Regions from separate parts of the Homo sapiens genome. Here all the other regions are linked to region 4. Evidence: fine-mapped expression QTL. A gene starts in region 4. Each other region holds a variant in brackets. All regions are shown on one strand. Distances are from middle to middle. Region 1 overlaps COG3 (component of oligomeric golgi complex 3). Region 2 overlaps TPT1-AS1 (TPT1 antisense RNA 1). Region 3 overlaps SLC25A30 (solute carrier family 25 member 30). Region 4 holds the start of SLC25A30 (solute carrier family 25 member 30).

Evidence for each region. PIP is the estimated chance that this variant, and not a neighbour inherited with it, causes the effect.
Region 1: its variant is the best candidate, but not a certain one, in a credible set for the expression of SLC25A30 in monocytes after LPS (Fairfax 2014, PIP 0.79).
Region 2: its variant is the best candidate, but not a certain one, in a credible set for the expression of SLC25A30 in tibial nerve (GTEx, PIP 0.56).
Region 3: its variant is the best candidate, but not a certain one, in a credible set for the expression of SLC25A30 in whole blood (INTERVAL, PIP 0.52).

Annotation. Positions count from the first base shown.
Region 1 is chr13:45,475,970-45,478,469 of GRCh38, forward strand. COG3 (component of oligomeric golgi complex 3) reads left to right here. Exons shown (of 23, transcript NM_031431.4): 2 at 232-378. Among named protein-coding and RNA genes, the nearest start is that of COG3, 12 kb to the left of the region's middle. The variant C/T (reference allele first, on the strand shown) is at 1,252.
Region 2 is chr13:45,381,887-45,384,646 of GRCh38, forward strand. It overlaps TPT1-AS1 (TPT1 antisense RNA 1), which reads left to right. Exons shown (of 11, transcript NR_024458.1): 9 at 1,205-1,349. Among named protein-coding and RNA genes, the nearest start is that of SLC25A30-AS1, 35 kb to the right of the region's middle. The variant C/G (reference allele first, on the strand shown) is at 1,267.
Region 3 is chr13:45,395,712-45,398,471 of GRCh38, forward strand. SLC25A30 (solute carrier family 25 member 30) reads right to left here. Exons shown (of 10, transcript NM_001010875.4): 9 at 1,547-1,627; 10 at 1-304. The coding sequence ends at 263. Among named protein-coding and RNA genes, the nearest start is that of SLC25A30-AS1, 21 kb to the right of the region's middle. The variant G/A (reference allele first, on the strand shown) is at 1,274.
Region 4 is chr13:45,416,862-45,419,486 of GRCh38, forward strand. It overlaps SLC25A30 (solute carrier family 25 member 30), which reads right to left and starts at 1,512. Exons shown (of 10, transcript NM_001010875.4): 1 at 1,439-1,512. It overlaps SLC25A30-AS1 (SLC25A30 antisense RNA 1), which reads left to right and starts at 1,301. Exons shown (of 2, transcript NR_047031.1): 1 at 1,301-1,877. RefSeq lists enhancers at 867-916, 1,727-1,916 and silencers at 1,147-1,476, 1,517-1,616.

The DNA.
Region 1 (2,500 bases), 59 kb after region 4:
AAAAAAAAAAGCTTACTAATGGTGGGACATCAGTGTCATGTTTATATTTTGAGATGAGCATTTAATATAGAGCCTAAAATGTTAGTACTATATAGTATTTATTAACTTAATGTGATTTAATGGAAAATATTTCTTTCTCTTTCAAAACAACTGAGATGGAAACCCAATCTTGAGTTAAGTTCAGAGAATTTTCAAGTCACTTAAATATCTTTGTGACTCTCTTTTTTCAAGCTTCCAATTGAAGACTTGTGCAGTTTAACATCCCAGTCACTGCCCATTGAACTGACTTCAGTAGTGCCTGAATCTACAGAAGACATTCTCTTGAAGGGCTTCACTTCCTTAGGAATGGAAGAAGAAAGAATTGAAACCGCACAGCAGGTGAATTGCAGTATCTTTTCTAAGGATGTTTGATTATTTCAGATGTCTGAAGACAAGGCTAATAAAGTCCTAATTAAAAGTTCTGAACATTTGTCACCATAATTAACATTAAGTCTTTCTAGAACATTCTTGATTTTGCATTAGTTGTGGCTGTTTACGTGTTTTAAATGAATCTATTGCCCAATTATAGTTATGATATAGGTAAAAAAACATGAGATTCCATGTTTGGACGTTGATAGATTATTGAGGTTTTAATGTCTTATGCACTTTTGACTTCCCCCAATGTCTGTCTTCTGTTAACCTGTTCCCTCAGTGTGTGCATGGGTACCCCTCCATCTCACTTGTTGCTAGGTAGTCCTTTTTTAAAAAACCCAAATATTCTTTTTATATTAACATTTGTAGTTATTTTTCAGTAATTTAGCATGTGTAATTTTTTCTTGGTTTTTGTTCATTCCTAATTAGAAACCTAAACTTACAGTAGTTTCTTCTGCCACTTTCCTTGTCTCCTCTTTCTTTTCCTATTAAGAGTCAAAGTTGAGGCATTGACCAAATAAAACATAAAGTACATGTGTTGGAACTGGATTACATATATAGTAAGTTGAGAGAGGCAGTTCTACAAACCGATGAAGAATTACAGTTCCTGAGCTAGGCTGACCTGCACCTGAAAGTCAGCTCCATCATTTAGCATCTTTGTGAGCTTAAGCAAATTACTTAGCTTCTTAGATCTTTAGTTTCCTAATATATAAAACAGGGATAATTATATATTATTTCACAGGATTTTTGTGAGCGTTAAATACGATAATGCATGTAAATTCGTTGTGTAGCAAGTACACAGTAAATGCTCAGCAAATGATAGCCAAGGTACATGGCAAG[C/T]CTGTATACCCTTGACATTGAATCTTACTTGAGATTCAGTGTTCTCAGGTTCACTTGAAGGTAGTCTTGCACCACATCTGTGAACTTGTTTGGCCTGCTTAAAAAAAGTCCTCTGGATGAAACTCGTACCTGTTCTCTCTTTAAAATTAAAAAAACTAATATGCTGACTTATAATTTATGTACAATAAAATGTATTCATTTTAAGTGTCAGCTCAATGAGTTTTGAAAAGTGTATATACCTATGTATGTAACTAACAACTATAATTGAGATATAAAACATTTCTATCATCACCCCAAAAGTTTCTTCATACTTGTTTAAGGTCAACTCCCCGCATCCCCCTTTTAAATAATAGATATTTTTCAGGCCAGAATTCAGATCCAGGGCTAGCTGATACCAGAGTCCATATTCTCTTTTTTTTTTTTTTGAGATGGAGTCTCACTCTGTTGCCCAGGCTGCAGTGCAGTGGGCAATCTTGGCTCACTGCAAGCTCCACCTCCTGGGTTCACGCCATTCTCCTGTCTCAGCCTCCTGAGTAGCTGGGACTACAGGCGGCCACCACCACGCCAGGCTAATTTTTTGTATTTTTAGTGGAGGTGGAGTTTCACCTTGTTAGCCAGGATGATCTCAATCTCCTGACCTCGTGATCTGCCTGCCTTGCCCTCCCAAAGTGCTAGGATTACAGGCGTGAGCTACCATTCCCGGCCCCACAGTCCATATTCTTAAACCACTCTGTAATATTATTTTTGAGTTATAGCCTCACAGTTCTTATTAGATAACGTTAATATTGATATTTGCCCAAAGCACTATGTTACCTACTCAAATTTTGTAAACGATTATAGCAAGTAGGCATTAGCCTGTTAGGAAGAAATATTCATTTTTTACCTATTGTATGTTTAATACTCTTCCTTAATTTGACTGTGAAAATGGTCAGTTTTTTGTTTGTTTTTTTCAATCCTTAAGACATCTGAAATGGCCTTTTTTTTTTTTTGAGACGGAGTCTCGCTCTGTCACCCAAACTGGAGTGCAGTGGCGTGATCTCGGCTCACTGCAAGCTCTGCCTCCCGGGTTCATGCCATTCTCCCGCCTCAGCCTCTTGAGTAACTGGGACTACAGGCGCCCGGCTTATTTTTTGTATTTTTAGTAGAGACGGGGTTTCACCGTGTTAGCCAGGATGGTCTCTATCTCCTGACCTTGTGATCCGCTCGCCTCGGCCTCCGAAAGTGCTGAGATTACAGGCGTGAGCCACCG
Region 2 (2,760 bases), 35 kb before region 4:
TGTCCTAAGAGCCAGGGGGAGAAGAGGGGCTGGCTCTCAGTCCCCGCCTCGTGGGGGGTGCCTCCCCCGCTGCGATGGGGGTCCTAAGAGCCGGGGGCGGAACAGGGGCTGCCTCTGAGTCCCTGCCTCGTGGGGGGTGCCTCCCCCTCCTGCGATGGTGGTCCTAAGAGCCAGAGGGGGAAGAGGGGCTGGCTCTCAGTCCCTGCCTCGTGGGGGGTGCCTCCCTCCCCTGCGATGGGGGTCCTGAGAGCCGGGGGGGATGAGGGGCTGGCTCTCAGTCCCCGCCTCGCGGGGGGTGCCTCCCCCCCTGTGATGGGGGCCCTGAGAGCCAGGGGGGAAGAGGGGCTGGCTCTCAGTCCCTGCCTCGTTGGGGGTGTCTCCCCCCCTGCGATGGGTGTCCTAAGAGCCAGAGGGGGAAGTGGGGCTGGCTCTCAGTCCCCGCCTCGTGGGGGGTGCCTCCCCCTCTGCGATGGGGGTCCTAAGAGCCGGGGGCGGAAGAGGGGCTGCCTCTGAGTCCCTGCCTCGTGGGGGGTGCCTCCCCCTCCTGCGATGGTGGTCCTAAGAGCCAGAGGGGGAAGAGGGGCTGGCTCTGAGTCTCCGCCTCGCGGGGGTTGCCTCCCCCCCTGCGATGGGGGTCCTAAGAGCCTGGGGCGGAAGAGAGGCTGGCTCTCAGTCCGTGCCTCGCAGAGGGTGTCATCGCCCCTGCGATGGGGGTCCCAAGAGCCAGCGGGGGAAAAGGGGCTGACTCTCAGCCACCACAAAATGGGGAGCCTTTATGTTCAGGTTTTGCCCAAGAGTCAGCTTATTTGCTTCTTGTACTAGCAGGGCAGTTGCTGCCAAGGCCCTCAAACAGGGGAGCCATCCTTCAGAAACCCTGTCTAGTTGTTCAGAGACGTAGGCCACCGGCCTCAGCCAGGGCCCCACAGTTTGGGTTAAAAGTCCAGCTGCCATCTTTTCTCTCTCTAACGCATACAATGGAAAAGCCTTTGCCAGATCGGGTAGCCCCAGGGCTGGGGCTGCCAGAAGTTTTTCCTTTAACTCCTGAAAGACTTTCTGTTCTTGGGATCCCCATTCCAAAGGTTCCCGGTCCCCGCCCCCTTTGTGACCTCATACAAAGGCTTGGCTAACACTGCAAAGTTTGGGATGCACAGTCTATAAAACCCCACAGCCCCTGAGAATTCCCTCACCTGCCTTCTGCCCTTAGGCTCCGGTAGATTGCAAATGACCTGCTTTCTTTCTGTTCCCGGGCTGCGTTCGGACCCCTGT[C/G]GGATAGTAACTCCCAAGTAAGGTACCTGCCGTCGGCAGATTGGAGCTTTCTTCTTGGAGACCTAATACCCACAGTCCTCCAGGTGGGTCCTAAGGATCTTAGGATCCGCGATGGGGGTCCTAAGGCAGGGGGGGAAGAGGGGTTGGCTGTCATCCAACCCAAAATGGGCGGCCTTTATGTTCAGGTTTTGCCCAAGAGTCAGCTTATTTGCTTCTTGTACTATCAGGGCAGTTGATGCCACGGCCCTCAAACATGAGGGGCCATCCTTTAGAAACCCTCTCTAGTTGTTTAGAGACGTAGGCCACCGGCCTCATCCAGGGCCCCAGAGTTTCGGTTAAAAGTCCAGCTGCCATCTTTTCTCTATCTGACGCATTCAATGGAAAAGGCTTTGTCAGATCGGGTAGCCCCAGGGCTGGGGCTGCCAGAAGTTTTTCCTTTAACTCATGAAAGACTTGCTGTTGTTGGGATCCCCATTCCAAAGGTTCCCGGTCCCCGTCCCCTTTGTGACCTCATACAAAGGCTTGGCTAATACTGCAAAGTTTGGGATGCACAGTCTACAAAACCCCACAGCCCCTAAGAATTCCCTCACCTGCCTTCTGCCCTTAGGCTCCGGTAGATTGCAAATGACCTGCTTTCTTTCTGTTCCCGGGCTGCGTTCGGACCCCTGTCGGAGAGTAAATCCGAAGTAAGGTAGCTGCCGTCGGCAGATTTGAGCTTTTTTCTTGGACACCTAATACCCACAGTCCTCCAGATGGGTCCTAAGGTTCTTAGGATCCGCAATGGGGGTCCTAAGCCAGGGGGTGATGAGGGGCTGGCTCTCAGTCCCTGCCTCGTGGGGGGTGCCTCCCCCTCCTGCGATGGTGGTCCTAAGAGCCAGAGGGGGAAGAGGGGTGCACACCCAGTTCATGATCAGGTCCCAAAATCAAATGTCCAGTTTTTAGCTAGGACCCAGTAAGAAGAGCTATTTTTCAAAGAGAGAAAAGTTATTTGCAAAAGATAACATGGATTTGCTGCAAACCGCCAGGGGTCTGCACTGTGATTCTCCTTTCAGGGCTGGTTGAAGGCTCCATACAGTATCTCTATCTGCCTTGGACACTTCAGGCATATGTGCCATATATGACAGAACATCTTGCACAACAGTCTGAATTTGCTGCAACCCTTCTCTTGCTCTGGGCCCCACTCAAAACCGGCAGACTTACAAATTCCTTCGTAAATGGGCCAGGGCAGCATGGTAAAATGTGCTGTATATTACCTCCTAAAACACCCGTCAAGTATTTTTTTTTAACTCTTTCCTAGCATAGGAGTACATGATGCAGCAATTTGTTTTCATTTGAAGGAGATAACCAACATGCCTCAGGCCACTGAACTCCTAGAAATGTCACATGCTCAACATATTATCCATATAATGGACTAGTTCTGCATTTTATGGGATGTTGTGATTATCAAGACCCCTGAAGCCTTGCTTATGACAGAACAGGAGAGTTGCCATAGAC
Region 3 (2,760 bases), 21 kb before region 4:
GCATTTCACATATTATCTTTGATGTTGAAGGGCACTTCAGTGGTAAAGACTAGTGTTTGGATGTTAGTTTATGCCATTAAACGTTTGATGAAGAGCATCCAATGCCAACACACAGCAATCTCAACTAACCCAGTCTTCATCTGTTGCTCACATCCCAGAATCTGTGATGAGCCAAGCAGTGAGAAGCAGAGTGAAACACAGGAAGCTTTGCTGTTTCAGAAGTTACCATTTTCAGAAAGATGTCTCATGCAGCCTTGGCTTGTCACAAATCCAATTTCTTCAACTGCTCGTATGTCACAAAGAACTGTGGTTATGGGTTAAGGATGACACAGAAAATGCCATCTTCACAACTCCAGTGCATAACAACAGACTTACAAATGGCACACTTAATAACAAATAGGTACAGGCAGACCCACGCTATGGACACGATTAAATAAAAGGGGTTCCACCCTTAACCACATCAAACTATCTTCCAAGGTCAGCTTGGAGCAGAAAGATCACAGCTGAGATATGTAAATCCCCTGGTATCAGCCTCTTCTGAGATGGCATCTACGCTGATAAGCTTTTGTGGCTTTGCTGTGGTGGAAAAACTTTCCAGCACTGTAAGCTTTTGAGAGAGAGAGAGAGAGAGAGAGTTAGCAAGCCCTGGGAAGCTCTCCTCAAAGGCTTCCACTATGCATCCTTCCTTGGGAGGCAGGAGCTGATGAAGAGCAACAAGAGGACAGCAAAAGCCAGCATTCCTGCTTCATCACTCTGCCCTTCAGTGTCTAATTAACTGCCTCACGGGCGCGGTGGCTCACGCCTGTAATCCCAGCACTTTGGGAGGCCAAGGGGCAGGTCACTTGAGGTCAGGAGTTTGAGACCAGCCTGGCTGACATGGTGAAACCCCATCTCTACTAAAAACACAAAAATTAGCCAGGCGTGGTTTTATGTGCCTGTAATCCCAACTACTCAGGAGGCCAAGGCAAGAGAATTGCTAGAACCCAGGAGGCGGAGGTGGCAGTGACCCGAGATCACGCCACTGTACTCCAGCCTGGGCGACAGAGTAAAGACTCAGTCTCAAAAACAAAAAAAAAGTTAACTGCCTTTCCTTTCCTGCCTCCCACTGTGGCACATAGGAAGCGTGCTGGCCTGCCAAACAATTCCGGAGCTAATTCCTGTTTATCTTCAGGCACTTTCTAAGATAAGCATTCTAAGACACTGTTGCCAACCACATCCTTCCCAAGGTGGCTAGGGCTATAAAGCCAATCCTCCTCTCTCTCTCTCTGAAATC[G/A]TAAATACCCTCAGCTTCTAGAACAGAGTCTAACTAAACCTTTTTAGTAGTATCACTACTTTTGAATAATACCACCATCAAAGCAAGATTCAGTGTCTAGCACGGAGACTTTACACTTCCTAAAAAAGAAACTAAGTAGTGACTTCTTAGCATCAGAGGAACTCAAAATAATCAGAACCTACTTCTAAATTATAATTAATAACATGAGAGTTTATACAAATAGTATTCTTTAGCTGTATCTTTTTTCAGATCTATTGCAACAGAAAAGGATACAATGATATTCCAAGGACCAAGTCTCAACCAATTTGGCCAAAAGCCTTTATAGAGAGCAAAAAACCCTTCATTCTTCCATGTCTGTTAAAAGAAGAAAAAAAAGTTAACTTCCAACTTTCTAATTATGCCAAATGCATTAATAATTAGTGGCCAGGCCAGGCGCGGTGGCTCACGCCTTTAATCCCAGCACTTTGGGAGGCCGAGGCGGGTGGATCACCAGGTCAGGAGATCAAGACCATCCTGGCTAATGCAGTGAAACCCTGTCTCTACTAAAAATACAAAAAAAAAATTAGCCGGGCATGGTGGCAGGCGCCTGTAGTCCCAGCTACTCGGGAGGCTGAGGCAGGAGAATGGCATGAACCCGGGAGGCGGAGCTTGCAGTGAGCCAAGATCACGCCACTGCACTCCAGCCTGGGCGACAAAGCGAGACTCCATCTCAAAAAATAATAATAATAATTAGTGGCCAGACTGATTTATTTTTCTTAAAAATAAAATCCTGTTTGGAAGGACTGCCTAAGAAATCTTTGCTCTTTAGAGGCTTGTGTGGGTGGAAGACTAAGGCTCCATGCCCAACAACCCCACACGAAGGATTGAATGAACTCCACACAAAGGAGATAAACACTGTTGAGTGAGGAAAAAATTAGATTTAATTCCAATTACGGTCTGTTGCTTCCGTGCCATGTGGGCTCCTGAACAGGTCACAAATAAAGAAGCAATAGTGGTAGAGATATCATTCAGAGTACCACTATTTCCCAAGATGTCAGGTGGATGAATACGATAAGTGTCTTTGCTTCATTAAGGCAACACCTGAAGAATAAAATGTGCTAGTGTCATGTTGGAAAACAGGAACCACAAAAGTGGCCCCTGTAGCCATAAAAAAGAAATCACGTTCTTTGCAGCAACATGGATGGAGCTGGAGGCCATTATCCTGAGCAAACTAACGCAGAAACAGAAGATCAAAAACCACATGTTCTCATTTTTAAGTGGGAGCTAAACAATGGGTACACACGGACATAAAGATAGAAGTAACAGACACTGGGGACTCCTAAAGGGGAGAGGCTAGAGTTGAAAAATTATCTGTCTGGTGTAATGCTCACTATTTGGGTAATGGGTACATTAGAAGCCCAATCTCCACCACTACGCATGTGCCTATGTAACACACCTGCACATGTACCCCCTGAATCTAAAATACATTAAAACTTGAAAATAAATAA
Region 4 (2,625 bases):
ATATATGCTAAGTTACACATCCTGTCTACATTTTCTCTTACATGGTTGCTTAGTATTTATTTTCACCCACCTGACCTCATGTGTACAGCTGTAAAGGGAGGTAATTAAATATAATACTAGCTGTTCGTACTTTTGAACGCTTTCCAAGTTTCTCTTATTTATTTATTTAGAGGCGGAGTTTTGTTCTTATTGCCCAGGCTGGAGTACAATAGCATGATCTCGGCTCACTGCAACCTCCGTCTCCTGGATTCAAGCGATTCTCCTGTCTCAACCTCCCGAGTAGCTAGAATTAGACATCCGTCACCACGCCCGGCTAATTTTGTATTTTTAGTAGAGACGGAGTTTCTCCATGTTGGCCAGGCTGGTCTCGAACTCCTGACCTCAGGTGATCCGCCCGCCTCGGCCTCCCAAAGTGCTGGGATTACAGGCCTGAGCCACCGCTCCCAGCCGTTTCTCTTATTTAATTCTTGGTAAGTTCTTTCAGTTTTACTTCCTGTTCCCTTTTTAGTCTTAAGTCTTAAAACTGTAATTGCACAGCCTTTAATGTGCTCTCATACATTTATTGTTCCTTGCTGGACCGACTGCCCTTTCAATAATGCCCTTTCATGAACTTTTCCTATTTCCTATTCTTTTTAAAGGTGCAGAAGGAAAACTAAGCTCATCACAGACTTACAAAAAGCCGGGTTTAAAAGAAATCTTCGAAATTATCATCTCGTTTCACGTTAATTAACTGAGCCCGCGGTCACAAAGCTTCGCAACGGCAAAGCCAAAAGCAAGATTCATGCCTTTCAACTTTCTCACTACCCAAGTAGCACCGCAAGCCGAATCCGCAGGGCAGTGCCAACATTGTTTGCTACTCTTGCGCAGAACAAAAATGCTAATCACTGCAACTGCTTTACATGAAAGTGCACCTAGAAAGACTTCAAAACCCAGAGGTACATTAACTTTCCAGGCAAGTTCCTCCCAGCCTGTGTGCCACGAGCGATTCCGAATGTGGTGTGCCCTCTCCCACAGTGCGAAGCTCGCGGGCGCTCAGGCTGCCGTTTGAATGAACGCACGAGTGGGAGGGACGCACAAGCAGGGTTGCAAGCCCGGGGCTCGTTAGCAGACGCGGAGATGCCAGGACGGGCTTCGCACTCGGATCTGAATGACCCTGGAACAGGAATCACCCCACGCCAACAGCGATGGGGGCCCCGCGGCACCGGCCCGACCCAAGGAGGCAGCAGCCCGAGAAGCAGAGCCCTGTCCCCAGTCCCCGGAACCTCGCGCCCCGCCGAGCCCGGCCCGGCCTGCGAAGTGGAGAGCACAGGCAGCCCCGAGCACGCCCGGTTGCAAAGGAGGCTCCTCGGAAATCGCAGCCCAACCTTACCCCAGGCCCGGGTTCCAGGAGCCGCAGAGAAAGCGGGGCCGGCAGGAGGAGGCACGGGCCAGGACTTACCTGGCGGCAGCGGCCCCACACCTCCTCCAACCCGGACTCAGTTGTAACAAGAACCTGAGGCCGCTGGAGAAAAGGAAAAAATGCCGTCGCGGGCGGGGCAGACCCACGAGCCTGCACGCAGCCCCGCGCCGCCCCGCCCCGTCCGCGCAAACACGCGACCTCCTCAGCTCCCATTGGTTTCTGCCAGCACTAGCCACACCCCTGACAGCCCCAGATGGGGACACGGAGGGGCGGGGCCCGTCCCAAGTGCCCCTCAGGATCTTCCCCTGCCGCTGCCTGAGGGAGCTGCCCGGGACTCGGTGACACCTGATGTGGCCTCCGATATCGACTGGGAGGTGGAAGAGAAATTTGGGGAACGCATCGAGAACCGTGGAAAAGCAACCTTCGCAGGGGGCAACCTTCTCACGGTGCCCCCGTGAACCTTCACAGTTGGATGGAAGTAAACTTGCCCTTATTTTTTTATACCCCAGCTTTTAGCTTGAAAATATACAGATTAGCCGGGCATAGCGGCGGGCGCTATAATCCCAGCTACTTGGGTGGCTGAGGCAGAAGAATCGCTTGAACCTGGGAGGCGGAGATTGCAGTGAGCAGAGAGCGTACCACTGCACTCCAGCCTGGGCAACAAAGCGAGACTTCGTCTCAAAAAAAAAAAAAAAAAAAAAAAAAAAAAAAAAAAAAAAAAAAAGCCAGACCTGGTGGCGGGTGCCTGTAATCCCAGCCACTCGGGAGGCTGAAACAGGAGAATCGCTTGAACCCGGGAGGCGGAGGTTGCAGTGAGCCAAGATCGCGCCACTGCACTCCAGCCTGGGCGACAAAGTGATACTCCCTCTTAAAAAAAAAAAAAAAAAAAAAGAAAGAAAATGTCCAAACAGAACAAAAAATTAAAAGAACCGTACTATGAGTAGAAATCTTTACATATATATCTAATATACATATATGTAAATATTTATTTATATATTAATATATAACATTTTTAACGGTATGGCAGTGTTTGTGTTCAAGCATACCCAGGTATATTTTTGTTTTGTTTTGTTTTTAGACAGAGCCTCACTCTTGTTGCCCAGGCTGGAGTGCAATGGCACCATCTCAGCTCACTGCAACCTCCGCCTCCCAGGTTCAAGTGATTCTGCTGCCTCAGCCTCCCGAGTAGCTGGGATTACAGGTGCCCATCACCACGTCCGGCTAAT